7 linked regions of the Homo sapiens genome follow. The protein of the gene in region 1 interacts with the protein of each later gene in a biochemical or structural test. Each region holds a gene or a part of one and is shown in the gene's direction. Other genes may lie near its edges. The genes, in order: RAB9A, GRID2IP, PDZRN4, APBA1, SNTG1, TJP2 and ARHGEF11.

Region 1 (2,438 bases):
GGTTTTCAATCTTTTCTTTTTAAGTTGTTGAAGCAAGATGCCAAAGAATTAAAGCAGCCAATTTAGCACATTGTTACCTATGTCAGGAAAGTAAGGGGCTTGGGACTGTTGCAGTTTCCTCTTTAACATTAATAGTCTGGATATTGAGCAATACATTTGAAATTGAAAAAGTCTCTCAAAAGGTATGCACCTTAACTGCCACACACTTGTGTTGGACAGTTTAAATTGTATTAATATTAATTATAGTAGTAATTACTGTAGTATTAATTTGTTTTGTTTTTTGAGATGGAGTCTTGCTTTGTCACCTAGGCTGGAGTGCAGTGGTGCAATCTCAGCTCACGGCAACCTACGCCTCCCAGGTTCAAGGGATTCTCCTGCCTCAGCCTAGTACCTGGGACTACAGGCGCTTGCCACCACGTCCAGCTAATTTTTTTTTTTTTTTTGTATTTTTAGTAGAGACGGGGTTTCACCATGTTGGCCAGGCTGGTCTCGAACTCCTGACCTCAAGTGACCTGCCCGCCTCAGCCTCCCCAAGTGCTGGGATTACAGGTGTGAGCCATCGTGCCTGGCCTGTAGTAGTAATTTGAAAGAACCAGTAAGAGGTAGGGACTAAGGTATGTCCCATCATTTTTTAATAGTATTTCCCATTCACTTGATTTCTCACTATACAAGCCACTACAAGGTTTTTATCAGAACAGTGGAGCATGTGGCTAGAAGTGCAGAATTCCTACATGTTACAGTAAGTGTTCAGTTACACTATAGTTGCTCACATTGCATATAACCAGGAGACAGCCAGATAATGTTTACTGCAGTGATTTTACAAATTCATCCTGGTCAATATAACAATTATTGTTCATGTCTTTATTGCCTTCCCATGGAGGGATTCATAATACCTACTTTCCTATTAAGGTTATTGACCAAATTTGCTCTAGATCTGTGCTCTCCAATTGGCTCATTAAATGTGGCTATTTATTTAAAATTGAATAAAATTTAAAATGCGGTTTTTCACTTCCATCAGCCTCATGTCAAGTGTTCCACAGTCACATGCGGCTAAGTGGCTGCTATATTGGACATTTCCATTGTTGCATAAAATTCTCTTGTACAGTGCTGCTCTAATAGTTATCTTCTTATATACATTTTAGTATACTTAAAAACCATTTAATACTAAAGTACAGATTAAATGATATAATCTGATTCGAAATAACTGGGGAGAAGGGAGAGTTGGAGGGGTTATGGAGGAAACAAGATTTGCCATAAGTTGATAATTGTGAAGCTGGGTTTAGAGTTCATGGGAGCTCATTGTATTGTACTCATTATATAGAAATTTTGTACATGTTTTACATTTTTCACAATAAAAATGTAAGCAGAAGGATTAACCAGGAACTGTGCTCCCACCAGCACCTAGAAGTAGCTGTCTGTCAACGGGCATCTGAAATCTCACCCCCCACAGGCTGGCTCTTGTAGTGTAGTAAAGTTTTTAATCCTGCCACAGGACTTCTAAAGAACACATATAGTACCACATTTTCATTTAAGGTTTATTTCATTCTACCTGAAAACACACAAGTAGCAGCAGTCTCATGTTCCTTAAGTGTTTGAACTGCCCAAGTGAATCTTGTGGATAGAATGTGCTAGATTATATTAAAAATTCCATTGCTGCTGACATTAATTTGAACAAATTCAAAATAATGTTCTTAATGAAGAGAATAAAGTCCATTTACTCAGTGGTTGGTTCATACTTTATTTCACAGCCAGGTAAGTCAGTTTCTGTCTCTGGCTTTCCTGGTTAACAGCACCTGTGTCTGAAGAGAGGTGGAGGGAGTAGTAGAGAAAGTCCCTGGTAGGAGAGAGGCCTTAAGTGAACACCATCACTGTGCACTGAAGGGCTGTTTGAAGTTGTTAAGAGAAACATGTGGGCTGGGCATGGTGTCTCACGCCTGTAGTCCCAGCACTTTGGGAGGCCAAGACAGGTGGATTGCTTGGGCCCAGGAGTTTGAAGCCAGCCTGGGCAACGTGGTTGAGACCCTGTCTCTACAAAAAAATAGAAAAATTAGCAAGGCATGGTGGTGTGCACCTGTGATTTCAGCTACTTGGGAGGCTGAGGTGGGAGGATTGCTTGAGCCTGGGAGTTCAAGGCTGCAGTAAGCCAAGATGGTCCCATGCACTCCAACCTGGGTGACAGCGAGATCCTGTCTCAAAAAAAAAAACAAAACCAAAACAACAACAACAACAACATGCGAACTTTGGTCTCCTACCCATCTCTAACAAATGGTGGGGCTTACTATGAGCAGAGAGGGGCTTATCATAGAGTAACGGTTCAGAGCAAGGGCTTTGGGGTCAGACTTGGGCTTGAGTGCCAGCTTCACAGTCAACTGTGACCTGAGAAAAGGGAAGAGTGAGCCCTTCCCAGCTGTTTCAGAGAATAATGGTAGAATAGTAGC
Region 2 (3,989 bases), on another chromosome or scaffold:
GCAGGTGGATCACCTGAGGTCAGGAGTTGGAGACCAGCCTGGCCAATATGGTGAAACCCTGTCTCTACTAAAAATACAAAAAGTAGCCGCGCATGGTGGTGGACACCTGTAATCCCAGCTATTCGGGAGGCTGAGGCAGGAGAATCGCTTGAACCCAGGAGTCAGAGGTTGCAGTGAGCCGAGATCACACCACTGCACTCCAGCCTGGGTGACAGAACAAGACTCTGTCTCAAAAATAAAATAAAATAAAATAAATGCCCAAAGATATGAATGGTCTCTGAGGGACCATTCTGCTCCAACATTCTGGACTTCCGTAAGTTTGTGATTCATGCCAGATCCCGAAAGGGAATTTTGGTAGATGGAGAGGGGTAAGAAGAGGGATTAAAGTGTAGGGAGTGAGGAGGGCCCATGGAAGCCAAGTGTACATGTAAGACAGTAAAACAGACCTGTGGAAGCAGGAGGGGCCCATGGAAAAGGATGTGGCCGCATTGGTTAAAAATCCAAGGCACTCAAAAGAAGACTTTAAGGAAGGGCCATTTTTCTTTTACACCCCCTCCCCAATTTTGTTTTTAGTAAAAACAAACAAACAAACAAACAAAAAACAAAAAAACAAGCCAGGCATGATGGTTCATGCCTGTAATCCTAGCACTTTGAGAGGCCAAGCAGGCAGATCACCTGAGGCCAGGAGTTCAAGACCAGCCTGGGTAACATAGTGAAACCCTGTCTCTACTAAAAATACAACAATTAGGCAAGCCAGGCACGGTGGCTCACGCCTGTAATCCCAGCATTTTGGGAGGCCAAGGCAGGCAGATCACCTAAGGTCAGGAGTTCGAGACCAGCCTGACCAACATGGAGAAACCCCGTCTCTACTAAAAATACAAAATTAGCCAGGCTTGGTGGCACATGCCTGTAATCCCAGCTTCTCAGGAGGCTGAGGCAGGAGAATCATTTGAACCCAGTAAGCGGAGGTTGCGGTGAGCTGAGATCACGCCATTGCACTCCAGCCTGGGCAACAAGAGCGAAACTCTGTCTTAAAAAAACAAAAACAAAACAAAACAAAAAAACATAGATGGAAGGGAATTGAGACAAAGACGGAGTCAGAGGGAGGAGGCAGAGATAAGTAGAGGCCTTCAGTGGCCCTGGGCCTTTGAGTGGCTTTGGAGCCATGGACAGAGCAGCAAGGAAATCCCTGTTCTGTCTCCAGTTCTAGGTGCATGGCCACCACTGCCACGCCGGCCACGAACCAGGGCTGGCCAGAGGACTTTGGCTTCCGGCTAGGTGGCTCTGGCCCCTGCTTCGTCCTGGAGGTGGCCAAGGGGAGCAGCGCGCATGCCGGAGGACTGCGGCCAGGAGACCAGATCCTGGAGGTGGAGGGGCTGGCGGTGGGCGGTCTGAGCCGCGAGCGCCTCGTGCGCCTGGCACGGCGCTGCCCACGTGTGCCGCCCAGTCTGGGCGTGCTCCCGGCTCCCGACGGTGGCCCCGGCCCAGGATCCGGCCCCGCGGCCCCGACCACAGTCTTGCGGGCCCCGCGGTGCGGCCGCGGCCTAGCTCTGGGCCGTGAGCTGCTTCGCCTGGCCGGCCGCAAGCGCCCGGACGCGGTGCACCGAGAGCGCAGGCGCAAGGCCCAAGAGTTCAGCCGCAAGGTAAGGCGCGGGGGTGGGAGGTGGGGGCGGGAAGGAGGGGGCTCATAATGTGGGCAGGGAGTGGGCCGGGCGCCGCTCTCCCAGGGCCAGAGGTAAGGAAACTTCTGGGGTCAGATTTAACAGAAATATGGGAATGCTCAACTTCAAAACCTTGCAAACAATTTTGCATTTTTTTTTTTTGAGACAGAGTCTCGCTCTGTCACCCAAGCTGGAGTGCAGTGGCCAGGTCTTGGCTCAGTACAACCTCTGCCTCCCAAGTTCAAGTGATTCTCCTGCCTCAGTCTTCCAGTAATTGAGATTACAGGCGTTTGCCACCACACCCAGCTAATTTTTTTTTTTTTTTTTTTTTTGGTATTTTTAGTAGAGACGGGGTTTCACCATGTTGGTCAGTCTGGTCTCAAACTCCTGACCTCAAGTGATCTGCCCACCTCTGCCTCCCAAAGTGCTGGGATTACAGGCATGAGCCACTGCGCCCGGCCTAATTTTGCAATTTTTATTCACTTGTGTTTCTTTTTTATTAAGGTACTATAGGTGTAAAGTGCATTAAGTGTGCAGCTCAATAAATTTTCCATATACATGCACCCTTGAATAACCACCCTCTTGATCAATATATAAAATAATAGGATATAGATAAAAATATAATGTAGACTATAGAATAATTGACACCAGAATGTTCCCACGTGCCCCTTTCTCTGTCTATCCTCCCCATTAGAACTTAACTGCAGGCCAGGTGCTAGATGTAATCCTAGCATTTTAGGAGACCAAGGTGGGAGGATCACTTGAGACCCTGAGTTCAAGGCCAGCCTGGGCAACGTAATGAGACACCATCTCTACAAAAAAAATCAAAAACTAGCTTGGCATGGTGGTGCATGCCTTATAGTCCCAGATACTCAGGAGACTGAGGCAGGAAGATCGCTTCAGCCTGGGAGTTTGAGGCTGCAGTGAGCCATGACTGCACCACTGCATTCCAGCCTGGGTAACGGAGTGAGACCGCATCTCTAAAATAAAAAGATAAAATAAAAAGAGCCACAGATATCGCTTCTTGGCCCTTCATCTAAGATCAAGTGTAAAAGAGCCAGTGGGGTGAGGTGGCTCACGCCTGTAATCCCAGCACTTTGGGAGGCTGAGGAGGGCTGATGACTTGAACTCAGGAGTTTGAGACCAGCCTGGGCAATGTGGTGAAATCCCATCACTATCAAAAATATAAAAAAAAAAAAAACCAGCCAGGTGTGGTGGCGCGCGCCTGTGGTGCCAGATACTCAAGGGTGTTGAGGTGGGAGGATTACTTGAGCTTGGGAGACGGAGGTTGCAGTGAGCTGAGATCATGCTACTGCACTGCAGCCTGAGTGACAGAGTGAGACTCCATTCCCCTCCCCGCCATTCCCCACCTCCAAAAAAATGTAAAAGAATTCCGCCTGTTCTAAGCCCCCACAAAACCAGGATTAGACCTGCCCTTGCACAGCGGCCTGGCTGGCTTGTTGGCTGCAGGAGGCCCTAGTTTGGCTTCACCAATCTGCCAAAGGCATTTCCTCTTGACTTTGGCACAAACCAGGCTGTGATAGACTGCAGGTGGAATATTAGCGTGGTCCTGAAGATTAAGAATGAGGAGCCTGGAATGGATCAGACCTCTAGCCACAAGAAGAACCCAAGGCCTGAGTCACCTGCAGGAAGTAGGGTGTGGCCACAAGCCAAGATGGAGGCACCATTTAGAGACCCAGGGCTGGGATGGAAAGAGGGAGGATAGAGTCGGTCTCAGGCCTGAATCCCAAGCAACCCCTGATTTGCAGGAACCTGCCATTTACTGGACAGATCCAGGCAATTCCAAGAAACCTGGGACGTGACATGGTTATAAAAGAAGAAGCTGCCTAGTATGGTTACAGCTACCCCAGGCCACTGACTAGGTCCCAGTACAGCAACCTCCCATGCCATTCACCTTCACTCCTGTCCTCCAGGGCTTTCAGATGGGGTCCTAAGGCCTTTATTTCACTAATACTTGAATGGAACAAAAAGTGATCCTGTGTGCGACTAGGAAATAGTCCGGAGCCAAGACACTCAGTCCCTACCCCTGCCTGGCTATCGGACCCCTGTGGACATGAAGCCTGGAAACTCAGTATTTGCTTGGCGGCTGGGACACTTAAGCTCATAGACTTTTTTTTTTTTTTTTTTGAGGCAGAGTCTCGCTCTGTCACCCAGGCTGGAGTGCAGTGGTGTGATCTCGGCTCACTGCAACCTCCACCTCCTGGGTTCAAGTGATTCTCCTGCCTCAGCCTCCCGCGTAGCTGGGATTACAGGCGTACCCCACCATGGCCAGCTATTTTTTTTTTCTGTATTCTTAGTAGAGATGGG
Region 3 (2,963 bases), on another chromosome or scaffold:
ATGTTGATCAGGCTGTTCTCGAACTCCTGACCTCAAGTGGTCCACCAGCCTCAGCTTCTTAAAGTGCTGGGATTACAGGATCCCACCACCACACCCAGCTAATTTTTGTATTTTTAGTAGAGATGGGGTTTCACCATGTTGACCAGGCTGGCCTCGAACTCCTGACCTCAAGTGCTCCACCAGCCTCAGCCTCCTAAAGTGTTGGGATTGCAGGCATGAGCCACTGCACCTGGCCTCAACATTAATTCTTAACACATCTTAAAAGATGATAATTTTTTTGAAAATCTTGACAGGCTTAGAAACTTGCAGCACAAACATTCTATCACTTTACCATGTTGAATAATGAAATATTCAGCTTGCTAACATCCCATAACAGAAATGTGTATGTGTGTGCACATGTCCACATATTAAATAAATAATTAGATTGCACACTATAGCATCAACATAGTCATATGTGATATACTCATGTGCTCATTATGTGGAGTTTGGCCACTCCACAAACAGAATTTCATGCTCACAAGTAATATCGCTACTGTGGTGACTGTCTTTCAATATAGGTAGGGCAGATTAAAATTTTTATGTATAACTTCAACACTGGCCAAAAATAAAGATATTTTTGGTGGCAGCTGCTGGTTACAAGCAAGAAAGTCCTTGCTCCAGGCTTTTTTTTTCTTAGATACAAAATGTGACCTGATACTGAATTGATAGGAGGATGTTGGAATAAGGAAAGCAGGGAGAAATCCTGTCCAGGTAAAGTGACAACGGTGTCAAACGCTGCCTACTCATCAGAGGTAATACAAATGTTAGGTCTCGTGAGGTAACACTAGATGCCTCTGAGGTTAGATTCTCATTGTGTGGAATTTTTTTCTTCACCATGAGACTAAAAAATGGTGAGAAGTACAGAAACCTTTAAAAGTCCTTTGCCCTTATAAACAATAATACTACATTAGAAATGTCTAGGTAGAAACATTGCCTGTCACTATAATAATTCCATAGGGAAATGATAAATGATAGAGTAGCATTGCATTAGAAACTAGGAATTCTAGGTTTGAGAATAGAAAACTATTTTATTTTCACAGTTGTTCATAGACCAATAACAAGGGAAAGGGGATATTCAATTGAAAAAATAAAATACCTACCCATATGTGAACCTACTTTATGGAAAGTTTCATTTTACACAGTATGTTTGGTCTTATGAATGCCGTTACATTGTGCAACATCTCCCATAGCATAATTTGTCATTATTATGTCATCTGCATGTAAAATAAGAAAAAAATTACTAGTCTTCTTGTATTTTTCAGCTCATGACAAGATATTAGAAAAATATAATTATAAATAACACGATATATAAATTCAAATGCCCAGTATCAATAACATTCTTTGAGAGTTATATGGTGTAGTATAAAGACATTGCCATATTAAATACTATTGTCACCTTATAAGTCACAGCCTAGGGATGCAGCAAGCTTCCCATTGTTCGTTACAGTTACTTATTATAATTTTTTAATCAATAAGACATTTAAGATAAATCTCAGTATGTTTTCAACAAATGAAGGAACATGTTCCAGGGAAAGAAAGATTGAGAGTCATAGAAAAGCTGATACATGGTTATGTTCTCTCCTCTTGATATTGTTACTTTTTATCCTGCCACTACTTTTGTGGAACAAAATAACAATTATCTAGAGAGACCTTTTTAGACTTCTTTTAGAATATCTTTTGTCACCCGTTCTATCCTTCTTTAGCACTAGCTGTTGGCTTGATTATATTTAATTGTGTAATTACATCTTCTAGAGGGATGGAGCTATATCTATACCTATCTATCTATCTATATATATATATAGTGAATAAACTTAGGCATAAGGCAGATATAACCTAGAAACTGCCTTATAGATTATCATATGATGACTGATAGAGGTGAAAGTAACTTTACCATATTCACAGAGAAAGAACTACACATGCATCTTATTAGGACAGTTACAGTTAATTGTTTTACATGAAAGCCAAAAATTACCAGAGTCTCTCTCTCTCTCTCTCTCTCTCTCTCTCTCTCTCTCTCTCACACACACACACACACACACACACACACACTACATAAACATACATGCATGCCTATATACATATATGTGACATAAGTGTCAAAATTTTTTTGATATTATGCCCATGTCTGGCAATCAGTGCTGTTCAAATTTTCATGGGACTGAATTTTTATTCTCAATAGACTAAAATTTATCTTTGAAAAAAAATCCCTGGTTAAGAGTAGAAAAATCTTATACAACCCCAATGAGTCCTAAAACATTGTTGTTGCTTTTGAGAAACATGATTTAGAGTGCACTGAGGTCAGAGCACATGTATTCAGGAATATGGCATCCTGGACATATAAGAAATTCTGGCACTGGAAGATGAAGCTTTGCCTCCATCTGTCATTAATAACCTGAATCTGCCACTAATAACCTGAATCCTTTTGGAATTGAGCATCCTCACCTATAGATAGCAATGTCCTAGGCTCCAGTACATAATGTTAACTTAGTCCTAAAACTCTGTGATGTTTGGCTTACCCATTGTCAGCATATTACTAAGCCAGTGAAGTTTCCTCTGTACTTAAGGGGAAAAACATAAGGTGATTGTGGCTTCTGAACATCAGGTCTCCATATTGCTGAAGACTATTTAGACATTCTGTCTTATTCTTTTGCATATTATCACCTCAGAAATTCATACAGTCACTTTGTTTATACACCTTCAACCCCGAGTTTCCCAAGTAAGAGAAAACCTAAAGAATCACTTATTTGAATGCATTCTGTCTTATTTATATCCATGTGAATATCATAGCCATATTCAAGCGGGTTTTGTTTTCTTCATTTCATTGTATAAAAAGCTGCCATGAGCTAATTTCCTTTATTTCTAAAATTGTGATGGACCCTAAATTAGAGCAACTGTCTAGGAGATGCAACTTTGCCAGGAAACAT
Region 4 (3,500 bases), on another chromosome or scaffold:
TGGGATGGTCATCAATGCTTGAAGGAAATTGCTGTGGTTGTGATGGGGAGTTGAGTAGAATATAATGCATCTCACTACTAGAGAGTCCATCAGATGTCCCTGGTCCTCCTGGGGTTGTCTGTTATCATATTTAAGAGTTCACTTCCCATCCATTGTGTCCATTTGTAAGAAAGGCTCTCCAAAAGAACATAATAGCAAGTTTACACATACTGTTGAGCCTATTTACCATAGGGATCTCAAAATCATAGGGGTCCTGCCTGTTTTGTTGTGGTTGTTTACATTCTTTGTGTCTATTTCTATATACTGCACAGATTATACCATAAAGCTATTTTGTGATAAGAAGAATTGAGAGAGACTGAAACCAAATCTTTCTCTCGAGCTACAAGTTTCTCTGAAAATAGAAAGAGACCTACCCATATTTTTAAAAAATTACACCTGTTATCCAGTTCTAGCTATAATGGCAACTCATAAAATCTTAGAATTTTAGATTCAGGTTACATGGGGAAAGTGAATATAGTCCTCCCTTGGTATCCATGGGGGTTGGTTTCAGGACCCCAGTGGATATAAAAATCCATTATAAAATGGTATAGTATTTGCATATGATCTATGCACATCCTCCCATATACTGTAAATCATCTCTAGATTTCTCATAATACCTAATACAATATAAATGCTATATAAATTGTTGTTATACTGTATTTTTACTTGCATTATTTTTTATTGTTGTATTGTGTTGGATATTTTCCCCTAATATTGTCTTCCGTGGTTGGTTGTATCCTGGATGCTGAGTGCGCAATAGGGAAGCCTAACTATTAGAAACCAGCTGCTATGTAACATTGGCCTCTAGGAAAAAGTGTCTCCTGGTCAAACAAGTTAGGGAAACCCTGTGTCCTGCATCTTCCTCCTTCTGGATATTAACAATGAAAAGTCAACTGTAACTCAGCATTTTCCAAACTTACTTGACCACCGAGTCTTTTTTACCCTATATAATAGCTGTTAACATCCTGCATGTAGGAAATGAGTCCAGTCACACCGTGGAGGTCCAGAAAATTAAGCCACTTGCCTGAGGTCACAAAGTCAGTAATGACAGAACCGGGGCGGGACCCCACTGCTGGCTGATAGCCTCTCTCAGAATGGCTTCAAAAGGTGTTCAAGATTATGTTTCTTTGAAATTGATGTAAAGAGTGATTTCTAAAGTTGTAGGATCCTAGTTTAATTTGGAGAGATTTATCTGTTAGCAGATGGAAAATGTGTCAGTTGGCCCATTCAATTTAGTAGTACTCTTTATTCAGATGCATCAGAAATGGGACCTGAATCGTATGCGTGGTGGAGAACAAAACGTTCCTGAGGCGCTCAGTGTGAGGGGTGGGAACGGAGAAAGGCAATAAGCAATTAAACAAGTAGATATGTAATTACAAATTATGATGCGTGCTATGTATGTGCTGTCAGATTGAACTTAAATTTGCAGTCTTTTTTTAATTGACCCAGAACTAAAAGGAATCAATAGCAGTTGTTTTTATGGTTATCTGAATACTCAGCTCATAACGACTGTTTGCACCACGTGACAGCCTCTCCCCTTCTTGTTTTTCCAGCCCAGTGGAGCAAAATGAGAGCGCAGTGAGCCGGGCCCAGCTTCTCTCCTAGCCGTTCCGACTCCCACCATGAACCACTTGGAGGGGTCTGCGGAGGTGGAGGTGACCGACGAGGCGGCAGGTGGGGAGGTGAACGAGTCGGTGGAGGCCGACCTGGAGCACCCCGAGGTGGAAGAGGAACAGCAGCAGCCGCCGCAGCAGCAGCACTATGTGGGCCGCCACCAGCGCGGGCGAGCCCTCGAGGACCTCCGCGCCCAGCTCGGCCAGGAGGAAGAGGAGCGCGGGGAATGCCTGGCGCGCTCAGCCAGCACGGAGAGCGGCTTCCACAACCACACGGACACCGCCGAGGGCGACGTGATCGCCGCGGCCCGCGACGGCTACGATGCGGAGCGCGCGCAGGACCCCGAGGACGAGAGCGCCTATGCTGTGCAGTACCGGCCCGAGGCCGAGGAGTACACGGAGCAGGCAGAGGCCGAGCACGCCGAGGCCACGCACCGCCGCGCGCTGCCCAACCACCTGCACTTCCACTCGCTGGAGCACGAGGAAGCCATGAATGCGGCCTACTCAGGCTACGTCTACACGCACCGGCTCTTCCACCGCGGTGAGGACGAGCCCTACTCCGAGCCCTATGCCGACTACGGCGGCCTCCAGGAGCACGTGTACGAGGAGATAGGGGACGCGCCCGAGCTGGACGCACGCGACGGCCTGCGGCTCTACGAGCAGGAGCGCGACGAGGCGGCCGCGTACCGCCAGGAGGCCCTGGGCGCGCGGCTGCACCATTACGACGAGCGCTCCGACGGCGAGTCCGACAGCCCCGAGAAGGAGGCCGAGTTCGCGCCCTACCCGCGCATGGACAGCTACGAGCAGGAGGAGGACATCGACCAGATAGTGGCCGAGGTGAAGCAGAGCATGAGCTCGCAGAGCCTCGACAAGGCAGCCGAGGACATGCCTGAGGCCGAGCAGGACCTGGAGCGTCCCCCTACCCCGGCCGGGGGTCGCCCCGACAGCCCCGGGCTGCAGGCGCCGGCGGGGCAGCAGCGGGCGGTGGGCCCCGCGGGCGGCGGCGAGGCGGGGCAGCGGTACAGCAAGGAGAAGCGCGATGCCATCTCGCTGGCCATCAAGGACATCAAGGAGGCCATCGAGGAGGTGAAAACCAGGACCATCCGTTCGCCTTACACCCCCGACGAGCCCAAAGAGCCCATCTGGGTCATGCGCCAGGACATTAGCCCCACCAGGGACTGTGACGACCAGAGGCCGATGGACGGAGATGTAAGTAGGTGCGGGTTTGGGCTTCCTCGGCCCCACGCGGTGGGAGGGAAGATGGCGCCCCATGGCCTTGTGTGCCCTTGGGTAGTGACTTTACGGGAAGTAGTCTGTGGGGACGCTAAGAACTTTTCCACCGTAAGCCTCAGAAACAGCTTGCACCTAAACTGTCAAACGCCAGCGGGAGAGAATTAAAGTGTTGAATGCACTCATCAGATTCTTAGCAGGATGGCCTCAAATCAGTGCTTCCCACACTGTGCCTGGAGACCTTGTGAGAAATGCATTATTGGGTACATCGCCCTCCACCCCCCGCCCCCCCCCCCCCCAGTTTCTGATTCAGAAAGTATGGAGTGGGGCCCGAGAATTTGTATTTCTAATGCCAAATAAAAAACAAGCCATGCTTGAGGAAGGAGAGACTTCACTGGAAAGGATTATTGCAAAGGGGAGAAAGATACTGTTTCGTTTTAGGGAGGAAGGACTGTTGCCATATGAGAACCTCTGACCTTAAGATCTTTAAGGGTCTCTAGAGTTAGGTACAAGGGGGAAGTTGTTTTATAGGGAGGAGTAGCCAAGTAGAAAGAATAGGGTATGTGAAAGTGGCATGAAAAGGGTGGGAGTTGAATGTGCTGTGGATCAGAGAATGTT
Region 5 (3,500 bases), on another chromosome or scaffold:
TCGGCTCACTGCAACCTCCACCTCCCAGGTTCAAGCAACTCTCCTGCCTCAGCCTCCTGAGTAGCTGGGACTACAGGCACATGCCACCATGCCCAGCTAACTTTTTGCATTTTAGTAGAGACAGGGTTTCCCCATGTTGCCCAAGCTGGTCTTGAACTCCTGAGCTCAGGCAATCTGCCTACCTCCGCCTCCCAAAGTGTTAGGATTACAGGCATGAGCCACCGCGCCAGGGCGAACTGTGTATTTTTAGGAAAGCTACTCATGTAATTAGGGGAAGAAAAGAAAGAAAGAAAAGAAAAGAAGGAAAAGAAAAGAAGAAAAGAAAAGGAAAGAAGGAAGGAAAGAAGGAGGGAAGGAGAGAGAGAGAGAAAGAAGGAAAGAAGAAAGAAAGAGAAAGAAAGAGAGACAGTAAGAAGGAAAGAAGAAAGAAAGAAAGAGAAAGAAAGAAAGAAAGAGAGAGAGAGAAAGAAGGAAGGAAGGAAGGAAGAAAAAGAGAAAGAAAGAAAAGAAAGAAAGAAAGAAGAAAGAAAGAAAGAGAAAAAAGAAAGGGAGGAAGGGCAGGGAGTGCACAGAGGGGAGAAAGGAAAGAAGGAAGGAGAAGGAAGGGAGGGAGGGAGGGAGAAGGAAGGAAGGAAAGAAAACTGCCTCAACAAATCAACTTTGTCTATTCTCTATCTGTACACTAATACAACTTTTATCATAGTAATAACGCAACACATATTTATATATTCTTACTTAGACTTAAATTATTTTCTAACCACTCTCCAAGTAGCTGCATGATCTTTTAAATCCTCTCTTTTAAAAAAAGCTATTTAAACATTAGAACATAATGCAGTTTACTATAGTAGTTAAAAAGGATAATTTTAAAGGAAATAATAAACATTATGTTTAGCTCTATCAAGATATACAAACAATATGTTCTATCTCTTTGTTACAATTTTTGACAAAGATTATGCAATTCATGATCTGCTATTTTGTGTAAAAATATGTCTTGAGATTTTTTTCTATGACAGTTAATGTTCCTTAAAAACACTGATAACTTTTTGATAGATTTCATCTATCCCATCATTTGCTTGTATTCATTGAGTCCACTTTAAAATTTTACATTTAGTTTTTTCCCCCACTTGTTATTGCTATCAGGCATATCACAACAATCATTATTTGAATGGTTTAATAGAAAATTAAATGTTTGCTATATACCAGGTAACCTCAGCACTTGTTATGTGGCTGAGAAAAATGCAGAAAAAGCCACTGCTTTCATTGAGCTTGCATTTTATTAGGTGATATGATGTTAAGTAAATCAATAAAGAAGACAAAAATAGTAAGTAAATAAATGAGACAAAATAATAATATGTAGGAAGGACTGATATTTGCTCAGACTTTTATGCAAATTCTTATTTCCTTTAGTCTAAATTCTGAGCTTTGGAAACCCCATGTGGAAAAATATTTTAATGTATTCAAGATATTAAATCCATGTGTACAAATTGCCTCCTACAAGTCATCTTAACTTATGCGGCCATCAGAAGTGTCTATGAGAGTGCCTGTATATTTACATTCTGACCAAATTAAAATCAAAGACTACTTCTCATTTTAACTTTCTATATACAATTTTCTATAAGCCTTAGTTTACTTGAATTTTTTTAATACTTCAAGTTCTGGGATACATGTGCAGAACGTACAGTTTTGTTACGTAGGTATACATGTACCATGGTGGTTTGCTGCACCTATCCACCCATCATCTAGGTTTTAGGCCCTGCATGTATTAGGTATTTGTCCTAATGATGTCTCTCCCCTTGCCCCCAACCTCCCAACAGGCCCTGGTGTGTGATGTTCTACTTGGGAAAATGTTTACATAGGTTAGTGAGGCCTGGCGATAAGTATTCTCATACATCAAATACAATGTAAATCTACCTTCAATTGTTGTATGTAATCAAGGAAGTCCCCCTCCCCTTAGTAAGTACAATGCTGGTGCTTTATGCTTTGTGGCTTGACATTAGACATATAAAGCCATCCTTCAAGCATTCCTTTTCCCAAAGGAAAATTTCATGTAGCATGAGAACAGAGGAGTGGCTTCTAGATTCGATGCTAATGGATTATTTTCCTGCATGCAGATTACCTTCTGGCCTTCTCCTGTGTCAGGATCACTGGTTGATAAGGAAGCCAGTCAGATAGGTGGGGCAGGTGAGCAAATAAGAAGGGGCATCTTCTACAGCCTAAATCAGAGGGGGAGTCTTCTACAGCCCAGCCCTCTCCTGCCATGAGGTATCACTTCTGATGCAAGCTGTGCAAGTTGTAGACTTCTGCCTCCAGAAAATGGATCCCTCAGGTGAGGCTAATTAAAAGTCAGATTTGAATGTCTGGATCACAGAAGAACTTGCCTGTGACCATTAATCAGGAAAATCCTGTCCCTTCTGATGTGTTCATAATGAAGCTACACCAGTAATAACAAAAATGAAGCAATAAGGTTTATCTGGTACATATAGTTTATATGTATGTGCCAGGTGTTGTCCTAAGTGCTTAGTATATGAATTCAGTTTGTATTTACAGCACCACTATCTGTCAGTTATTGTTATTCCCATTTTAGAGATTTGGAAACTGAGGCAAAAAGCAGTTTAAGTAAATAGCCTAAGGTCACACAGCTAGTAAATATCAGAGCTAAAGATATGAATCTTGCAATGTGTCAAAATTCTGTGCTCTTGCACATGATACTACACTGTCTCTGTCTCTCAGCGTAAATATTGATAATTTGGGAAAAAAGATGGGAACCAGAGAGCCAGCCTGGTACTGATGAGAGAGCAAAGGTTTCAGAAAAAGGAATTTGGCAACAAATGCCACTTCTGTTACTAAAACATTACCCTTTATGAGTGTATTGGGCACTATGAACTTCAGTTCTTCATCTGTGAAATGCAGCTATGGATGCAGAGGGTGCTGTGAAGATTAGGAATTGGTTAACTGATTTGTGAATGCATTTTTGTCTGTTAATTCATATCAGTTACTTCGAGTACCTTCTATGTGCCAAGCACTCCACTAGGTATTAAGGATAAATACAACAGTATAAGAGAGTTGAACTCACAAAAATTCCAGCTGATGAAGGAGTTTAGGAAGGGCATTTTGGAGGAGGCTTTTAATGAACTGAAACCTAAGTGACTGTGAAAGGGCTCCACAGAGGAAGATGTGTCATGGCAGGGGTTGGAGTCCAGCCAGTAGGAGGGGAGGAGCAACCTGGTCCAAGGAATAATGTATAAACTTGCCCAGAGCTACAAAGAAGTATGTGTCCCTTCAACAAGGCAAACAAGTTTGTTACAGCTGTAGTCATCTTGGGTATGAGGTTGGTGTTGGTGTTTGGATGGAACAGATCATAGGAAAAGGCCTTAATAAAGCACATGAACTTTATCTGAGGAACAAAGGACAGCCACTAAAGCATGTCAAGCATAGGGAGGGACTGAGGTTGCCCATTTAAAAATCCTCTTCGAATGCAACGTGAGATGGAGATGAAGGGG
Region 6 (3,500 bases), on another chromosome or scaffold:
GGGAAGCAGAACAGTTTTCTCTGGTGTTTTACTGAGTTTTTGTCTTGATCCTAAATCCAAGGGTTAGGGTCAGAAACACAGACTCAGAGGTTAGATTTAACACCCATTTAGTGGGTTAAACACATCAATGGTTATGTGAACTTTGTTAAGGTTTAAAAAGCTATTTAGGGCCTGTTTCTCCCTCATAGGAATTTTTGCAATCAGCCTTTTTAGTAGATGCCCATATAGAAAGTGAATTTGGGAGGGTCTAAGGTGGTATTACTATTAAACTTTTTGAAAAGGCTGTGTGATAGCAATGGAAAAAAAAATTCAGGCATGGAAATCCAATATGCAGTATTGCAGTAGCTAGTTTTAATTTTATTTTTGTTTTTTTGGTTTTTTTTTTGGAGATGGAGTCTTGCTCTGTTGCCCAGGCTGAAGTGTGGTGGTGCGGTCTTGGCTCACTGCAACCTCTGCCTCCCGGGTTCAAGCGGTTCTCTTGCTTCAGCCTTCAAAGTAGCTGGGATTACAGAAGTGAGCCACCGTGCCCGGCCACTAGTTTTAATTTTGGATGGTACCTAGGAAAGCAGTTGAGCTAGTATGCTGCATACATTGTAGTGTGAGAGGCAGAGTTCCGAGTTGGAGAGTGTCTGCTTCCACTTTTTCCATTTGATTAGGAAAAGCACTTCTTAGAACTGGGTGACTGACAGCTAGAGCCCCAGAAGACCTGCACAAGCTGGGGCAATGGCTACCCATAACAGTGACGGCTCCATTCTGTTTTTTAAAGGGATTGGTGTCTCTATCATCCAGCTGGCCATTAAACAACCAAAGCTTCATCATCCTAGATAACCTGTGAGCTCTCAGAGGAGACAGAGTAAGGACTATCATACCCCCAAAATACCTAATCATTTAATAAAGCATTTTCTCTACCTTTTATGCTATCCCAAAACAGTGCTTTCCAAAGTCTGGTATACAGACAGACTTACAGGTGGTGCAGAGAGATACATATTCTATTTTTCAATTATGATGCATGAATATTATATGTTAGGAATAAAAACAGAAAACCAGCTACCACATCCATTTATTTCATGGCTAGATTGCTTAGAATGAGGCAAAAATAAATATTAAGTAAAGCAGTGAGTTTGCTTTAAGAAAAATTATCAACTCTGGGAATGAGTAATATGAGGCTAAGGCAAAAATGGTAAAGCTAGCCCTTGACATCTGAGGTGTGCATAATACTGCTTAAAATATGAGTGTGGTGCTTACTTATAGAGAGCCTGGTATACCTTGACCACGCCTTCAAGAAAGTCAAACACAGAATGGCCCAGAATAGCCAGGAAAGTTGAATTTGATGGACTTTCTGTCTTAAGCGTGTGCATCCTGCTCTTATCCACTCAGATCTCTTAGATGTGGTTGCAGACAGTGTATTTGTAGAGCTAGCTGTTTGTTTTAACGTCTGGCCCAATTCTCATTCCTTTCTCTGCTTCCACAAGCCATTCTGCAGTTTTTAAAGGTCTGTTGGTATGATATTTTTGATATGATAGAGTGATAGGGGAGGAAGTATTTTGACACTGATGAAGGACATCACTGTATTATCAAGTGACTCTTGCTCATGATTCATTGCCGAAGAATGTGGACAGCCAAACAGCCTCACCTGTAAATGCATTTAATTTCTCAAAGTCTTTCAGAAGAATGCCAACTGGATGAGTTTTTTTTTCTTATTTTTTTTTTAATATGAAGCTTGTATTGGTCTGTAAAATAGGCTTTAACAAGGATTTTCGTAGGAACAGGAAGCCTTGAGGTAGAAAACAAGTATCCCTGCTTTGACCTAGAGAGATGCATGCTCATGGCAGGCGAATGAATCAAGGAGAAGAGAAAATACTGTTTCAGTAGACTCTCTAGTGATGTGTGTGTTCACACCATTTATGAGAAATCCTAAGCTTTCAATTAGTAACTTGTACTTTAGTCATTTAAAATCAGCACAGATGTTTGTTTAGTGCCTCTGCCAGATGGTTAAAGTTAAATCAGGTTTTTTAACCTGAAAAACGTAATGTAGCTTTCCTTAACCATTTACACACCATTGTATATTGCAGACCATAGTCAGATACATTTTGTTATAATGAATGTTTATTTTACCTTTTAGCTCAATTAGAATATCAGTGGTTATGGTTTCTATTTTGTTTTCCTACAGTTACTGTATGGGGGTGCAGTAACAGCGGTGGTGGTGAAAGTAAGTTACTTTTTTCTTTTTCTTTCTTTTTTTTTTTTTTTGAGACGGAGTCTCCCTCTGTCGCCCAGGCTGGAATGCAGTGGTGCGATCTCGGCTCACTGCAAGCTCCACCTCCCGGGTTCACGCCATTCAGCCTCCCCAGTAGCTGGGACTACAGGCGCCCGCCACCACGCCCGGCTAATTTTTTGTATTTTTAGTAGAGACGGGGTTTCACCATGTTAGCCAGGATGGTCTTGATCTCCTGACCTCGTGATCCACCCGCCTCGGCCTCCCAAAGTGCTGGGATTAGAGGTGTGAGCCACCGCGCCCGGCTGAAAGTGAATCTCTTAATGGATCTTCCATGAATCAAATATTTGTGTTTTAGTAAGTTAGGCTGACCAAAAGATTTCGAATCATACCTTTAATCATGGCAAGGATCTTATGTCACATTCTTGAGTACACATGTTCACTAAATTTTACCTATATGTGTATGTGAACATGGACTTCAGAATTAATTAGTGTGGTAATTATTATTTCTATTGTAGACTTTAATCAGCCATATTAAATATATGCATTATGTTCACAGAGAAAACATGGTATCATCTTTGGAAACTTTACAGTATGCTCTATATTATAGATACCCTATATAACTATGGTACTAAACACACGAGTTAGTGACAAGTCAGGCATTTGGAGGGAATGTTTGTAACCCATTGTGGGAGAGAGTTATTAGAATAGTTATTCTTACTGGTAGGTAACAGTTATGGCTGTAATGAATAGAATGTGACTAAAATCCAGTTATGCCTTTGCCATCGTATTAAAAGCTTTGGTGGAGACGTGAGAACATTGCAGATACTTTGGATTTTGTCACTTGAGTTGAAGGTAAACAGAGAAAACAGTACTTTCTAGTCATCAGTAGGAATTAACTCTTCCAGGACATGTAGCTTCAAGGACCTTCTAGGTTCTTCTGAGGGGGAAATAATGTTCCACTTGGGGCCATTTTTTTCCATTTGTTGAGAGTCATTTGTTTTCAGAGTATTAAAGGAAGTGTTCCGAGTTCTAGGTTGTGTTTCTTTGATGCCTACTAAAGCTGAGCACACCTGAGACCCTGGGTGGAGCTCTACAATGGGAATAGGAGTAAGTAATGTAGGCTTCGAGAGACAATCATTCTGCTCTCAGTCCTTGGAAGACTGTTCCTAGGTATATATGGCAAAGCAGATGAAATTATTTGAGGGAATTAATTAGCAAAACTAAACATTTCTGTTTTTGAAAGGAATGAATCATTTGGAAGGAACTTCCTGGTGAGCTCAGT
Region 7 (3,500 bases), on another chromosome or scaffold:
CATTCCCTCCACAGGTCTCTTGAGAACCCAACCCCTCCATTCACTCCCAAAATGGGCCGCAGGTAAGTGATGGGCACGGTGGTGCCTCTGTTTGGTGTCTCTGTGTCCCATCCACACCCAGCTGCTCCTCTCACCTGCAAGGGGCTGGTTGGGTGGCTGTCTCCTCTTCTGGGCCCACTGGTTTCCCATGTGCATGGGGCAAGCAGGTCGGGCAGGAGAGGGAGGGCCAAACCCTCTGTGTGAGTTCTTCCTCCTAAATGAAGCTGAGCTGCCTGTTTTCCCCCAGGAGCATTGAGTCCCCCAGTTTGGGGTTCTGCACAGATACCCTCCTTCCCCACCTCCTAGAGGATGATCTGGGCCAGCTGTCTGACCTGGAGCCAGAGCCAGATGCCCAAAATTGGCAGCATACAGTGGGCAAGGATGTGGTGGCTGGGCTAACCCAGCGGGAGATTGACCGGCAAGAGGTCATCAATGGTGAGAACGTGCTCCACTGCCCCCAGCTCCGCTCACACGTGTGGGAATAGGTCCAGAATGCCTAAGACACAAGGGTGGGAAAGAGGTAAATAGGGTGGGGGGCCCCTGTGTGCTGGAGCAGGTCCACATTGCCTGTTGCTATAAGGTTCCCCTCAGTTCTGGCCCTTGGAGTAAGAGAAAAGTTGCTGTATGATCTGAAACTGGCACTTCAGTTCCCCCAAAAATAGAGTGGTGTGGGAACCAGGTCAGGGACTCTAGATACTTGCTGATCCGTTTTCTCCCTGGCTTTCTACCCTCCTTGTCACAACCACCGCTCAGAGCTGTTTGTGACTGAAGCTTCCCACCTGCGCACACTCCGGGTCCTGGACCTGATCTTCTACCAGCGAATGAAGAAGGAGAACCTGATGCCCCGGGAGGAGCTGGCCCGGCTCTTCCCGAACCTGCCTGAACTCATAGAGATTCACAGTAAGGAGCCTGTGCCCCTCCAGACTCCTCTTCTGCTGCCCTTCAGCTTCCTGTTCCACTTTGGCCCCACTGCCAGGACCTCCCTGAGTAGGTAACCTCCCACCAATCCCTGGTGAGAAAAAGATCTGTGGACAGCCTGAAACCAGCACTGGAGTTCACCCCGAAAGTACAATGGTTTCCAGACCCTTCCCATGGCACTGCTGTCAGAGATTCACTTCTCTCTGTCAGAAAGGTTCTGGCAGTTGAGCTCAACCCCAGGCATTTCTATTTGTTCTCTTCCTGCCCCAGATTCCTGGTGTGAAGCCATGAAGAAGCTCCGGGAGGAAGGCCCCATCATCAAAGAGATCAGTGACCTCATGCTGGCCCGGGTATGGCTCCAAACTTCTCCCTCTTGGCAAGGAGGAGATTGGGGGAGGCAGGGTCTCATTACCCAAGGCCAGAGAATTTGGCAAAGGCAGGGGTCTGGTCCCAGGCAGGGGTTTGATGCCTGGCCCCGTGTCCATTCTGCCTCTTCAGTTTGATGGCCCTGCCCGAGAGGAACTCCAGCAAGTGGCTGCACAGTTCTGTTCCTATCAGTCAATAGCCCTAGAGCTAATCAAGACCAAGCAACGCAAGGAGAGTCGATTCCAGCTCTTCATGCAGGTGCGTCCTTGGCCATGCCTTGGCCTTCCTTCATCTCCATCAAGGTCACCAAGGATCTCCTGAACTTCTCTCCTTCTGGCCACATCATCCCTGTCTACAGCAACTCCCTCTACCCTTCGACACACGCTCCTCAAAAGCACTGACTCACTCTAGACAAAGAGACTTCTGTTTGTTGGAAAGAATCCTGGATTAGCAGTCAGAGGCCTGGCTCACCCACCAGCACCTGTGTGTCCTGAGATGGATCTCAGTTTCCTTGTCTATAGAATGGCAGCAATATGCCTGCCCTTCTGTTTTGACCATATCCCTTTGGATTGGTGTCTCCCTGCCACCACACACCCTTCTCTACATCTTTAAGGAAGAAGCTTCCACTGCCATTTCTGAGTGATCCATCTGGCGTTAGGACCTGTTTGTCATGTTCACACCCATCTTGGCCCTGAGCCCATAAGCCAGCTCCCAGCCACGCTGACATCTCCTCCCTTCTGTGTCTCCTGCTGTCTAGGAGGCTGAGAGCCACCCTCAGTGTCGGCGGCTGCAGCTGAGAGACCTCATCATCTCTGAGATGCAGCGGCTCACCAAGTACCCGCTGCTGCTGGAGAGCATCATCAAGCACACAGAGGGTAGCACCTGGGGAGGGGCTGGCATCACAGGCAGTGGGCCTCGTGCCAGACCCTCATTCTGACACTGCTTTGTGACCTTAGCAAGTCACTGTGCCTTGTGGTCTTTGGTGTCTTCGTCCTTTTTCTGTTGTGGGGTGTTTCAGAGAAGAAAATGATTGTAAATGTCCTTTGGAAAATATAAGGTGTTTAATAGTGGGAGGAGTAGGGGCCACCATCGAAGGCCACCTGTGTGGGCCTTTGTGCAAATCCAAGGAAAGCATCCGGTGCCCAACACAGGCTGGCACTCAAGGGCACCTGGGTCCCTCTGGTTGCATGGGGCTGGATTTTATCCCCATTCATGCCCCCTGCAGTGCACAAAAGACACAGCCTATGTGGTTACACTAGAGGGGCAGGGGACCAGACTGAACAAGAGGGTCTAGCCTCAGGTTATCACTCTCCCTGGGATCCTGGGCATCTTTCACTACCCCCAAATTTCAGACATTGGAGTCAGGACAGAGAGGTGTTAGGAACCCCAATCTGATTTGAACAGGCTTTCTAGAGGCATAATTGTGGCCATTTACCACAGTCTCTGTCCCTTGCATCTGTAGAGCTGGTTGTAGTAGAGGCAGGGATTCCCAGGAGCTATCAGCGTCTTCAAAGCAGTGATCTGTCTGAGACCTGAAGATGCTCAGTAAAAGTTACCCTTACCACTTGGGGTCCTCATGTGAGGCAAGGGTGGCTCCCCTCCACCCACGCCTGCTGGTTTGAAGCAAGCCAGCTGCCATGGATGAATAGGCAGATAACAGCTGGCGCCATGTTGGACTTCTCAGGCAGGAGCCCCAACCATCTCTTCTGTCCATTTTGGTAGGTGGCACCTCTGAGCATGAGAAGCTGTGCCGGGCCCGGGACCAGTGCCGGGAGATTCTCAAGTATGTGAATGAAGCGGTAAAACAAACAGAGAACCGCCACCGTTTAGAGGGCTACCAGAAACGCCTGGATGCCACCGCCCTGGAGAGGGCCAGCAACCCCCTGGCAGCAGAGTTCAAGGTAGGAGGCAGAGGCTGCAGCAGTCAACCCCTCACACTTTGTGGGTACCCTTAGGAGCAGAACACTGGTCAGGGCTTGGAGAGTCTTAGAGGTAGGAGACAGAGACCAGATAGGGTGGCACAATGGAGCCCCAGAAGACACACACCCTGCTATTGTCACCCTGTCCCTAGATGGACAAGGCAGGCCGCCCCACCTAAGAAAGACTAGATGTTGGAACTCAGCCTGAGAGAGCAGGGGATGGGGTAGAACTGGAGGTAAGGTGGAGATCTTCTGGGA

The links.
Region 2: the proteins of RAB9A (region 1) and GRID2IP interact in a test that uses a peptide from one of them, tested with the Homo sapiens proteins (one large-scale study listed by IntAct).
Region 3: the proteins of RAB9A (region 1) and PDZRN4 interact in a test that uses a peptide from one of them, tested with the Homo sapiens proteins (one large-scale study listed by IntAct).
Region 4: the proteins of RAB9A (region 1) and APBA1 interact in a test that uses a peptide from one of them, tested with the Homo sapiens proteins (one large-scale study listed by IntAct).
Region 5: the proteins of RAB9A (region 1) and SNTG1 interact in a test that uses a peptide from one of them, tested with the Homo sapiens proteins (one large-scale study listed by IntAct).
Region 6: the proteins of RAB9A (region 1) and TJP2 interact in a test that uses a peptide from one of them, tested with the Homo sapiens proteins (one large-scale study listed by IntAct).
Region 7: the proteins of RAB9A (region 1) and ARHGEF11 interact in a test that uses a peptide from one of them, tested with the Homo sapiens proteins (one large-scale study listed by IntAct).

What each region holds. Positions count from the first base shown.
Region 1 is NC_000023.11:13,706,128-13,708,565, forward strand, and holds part of RAB9A (ras-related protein Rab-9A), read left to right. Parts: intron 1-2,438. UniProt on the Homo sapiens protein: The small GTPases Rab are key regulators of intracellular membrane trafficking, from the formation of transport vesicles to their fusion with membranes.
Region 2 is NC_000007.14:6,548,662-6,552,650, reverse strand, and holds the start of GRID2IP (delphilin), read left to right. Parts: upstream 1-1,189; 5' UTR 1,190-1,214; coding exon 1,215-1,643; intron 1,644-3,989.
Region 3 is NC_000012.12:41,569,320-41,572,282, forward strand, and holds part of PDZRN4 (PDZ domain-containing RING finger protein 4), read left to right. Parts: intron 1-2,963.
Region 4 is NC_000009.12:69,515,372-69,518,871, reverse strand, and holds part of APBA1 (amyloid-beta A4 precursor protein-binding family A member 1), read left to right. Parts: intron 1-1,592; 5' UTR 1,593-1,661; coding exon 1,662-2,861; intron 2,862-3,500. UniProt on the Homo sapiens protein: Putative function in synaptic vesicle exocytosis by binding to Munc18-1, an essential component of the synaptic vesicle exocytotic machinery. May modulate processing of the amyloid-beta precursor protein (APP) and hence formation of APP-beta.
Region 5 is NC_000008.11:50,659,907-50,663,406, forward strand, and holds part of SNTG1 (gamma-1-syntrophin), read left to right. Parts: intron 1-3,500. UniProt on the Homo sapiens protein: Adapter protein that binds to and probably organizes the subcellular localization of a variety of proteins. May link various receptors to the actin cytoskeleton and the dystrophin glycoprotein complex.
Region 6 is NC_000009.12:69,177,277-69,180,776, forward strand, and holds part of TJP2 (tight junction protein 2), read left to right. Parts: intron 1-766; exon of another isoform or gene 767-853; intron 854-3,500. UniProt on the Homo sapiens protein: Plays a role in tight junctions and adherens junctions. Acts as a positive regulator of RANKL-induced osteoclast differentiation, potentially via mediating downstream transcriptional activity.
Region 7 is NC_000001.11:156,944,743-156,948,242, reverse strand, and holds part of ARHGEF11 (rho guanine nucleotide exchange factor 11), read left to right. Parts: intron 1-14; coding exon 15-62; intron 63-286; coding exon 287-474; intron 475-792; coding exon 793-939; intron 940-1,227; coding exon 1,228-1,307; intron 1,308-1,455; coding exon 1,456-1,581; intron 1,582-2,080; coding exon 2,081-2,198; intron 2,199-3,045; coding exon 3,046-3,224; intron 3,225-3,500. UniProt on the Homo sapiens protein: May play a role in the regulation of RhoA GTPase by guanine nucleotide-binding alpha-12 (GNA12) and alpha-13 (GNA13). Acts as guanine nucleotide exchange factor (GEF) for RhoA GTPase and may act as GTPase-activating protein (GAP) for GNA12 and GNA13.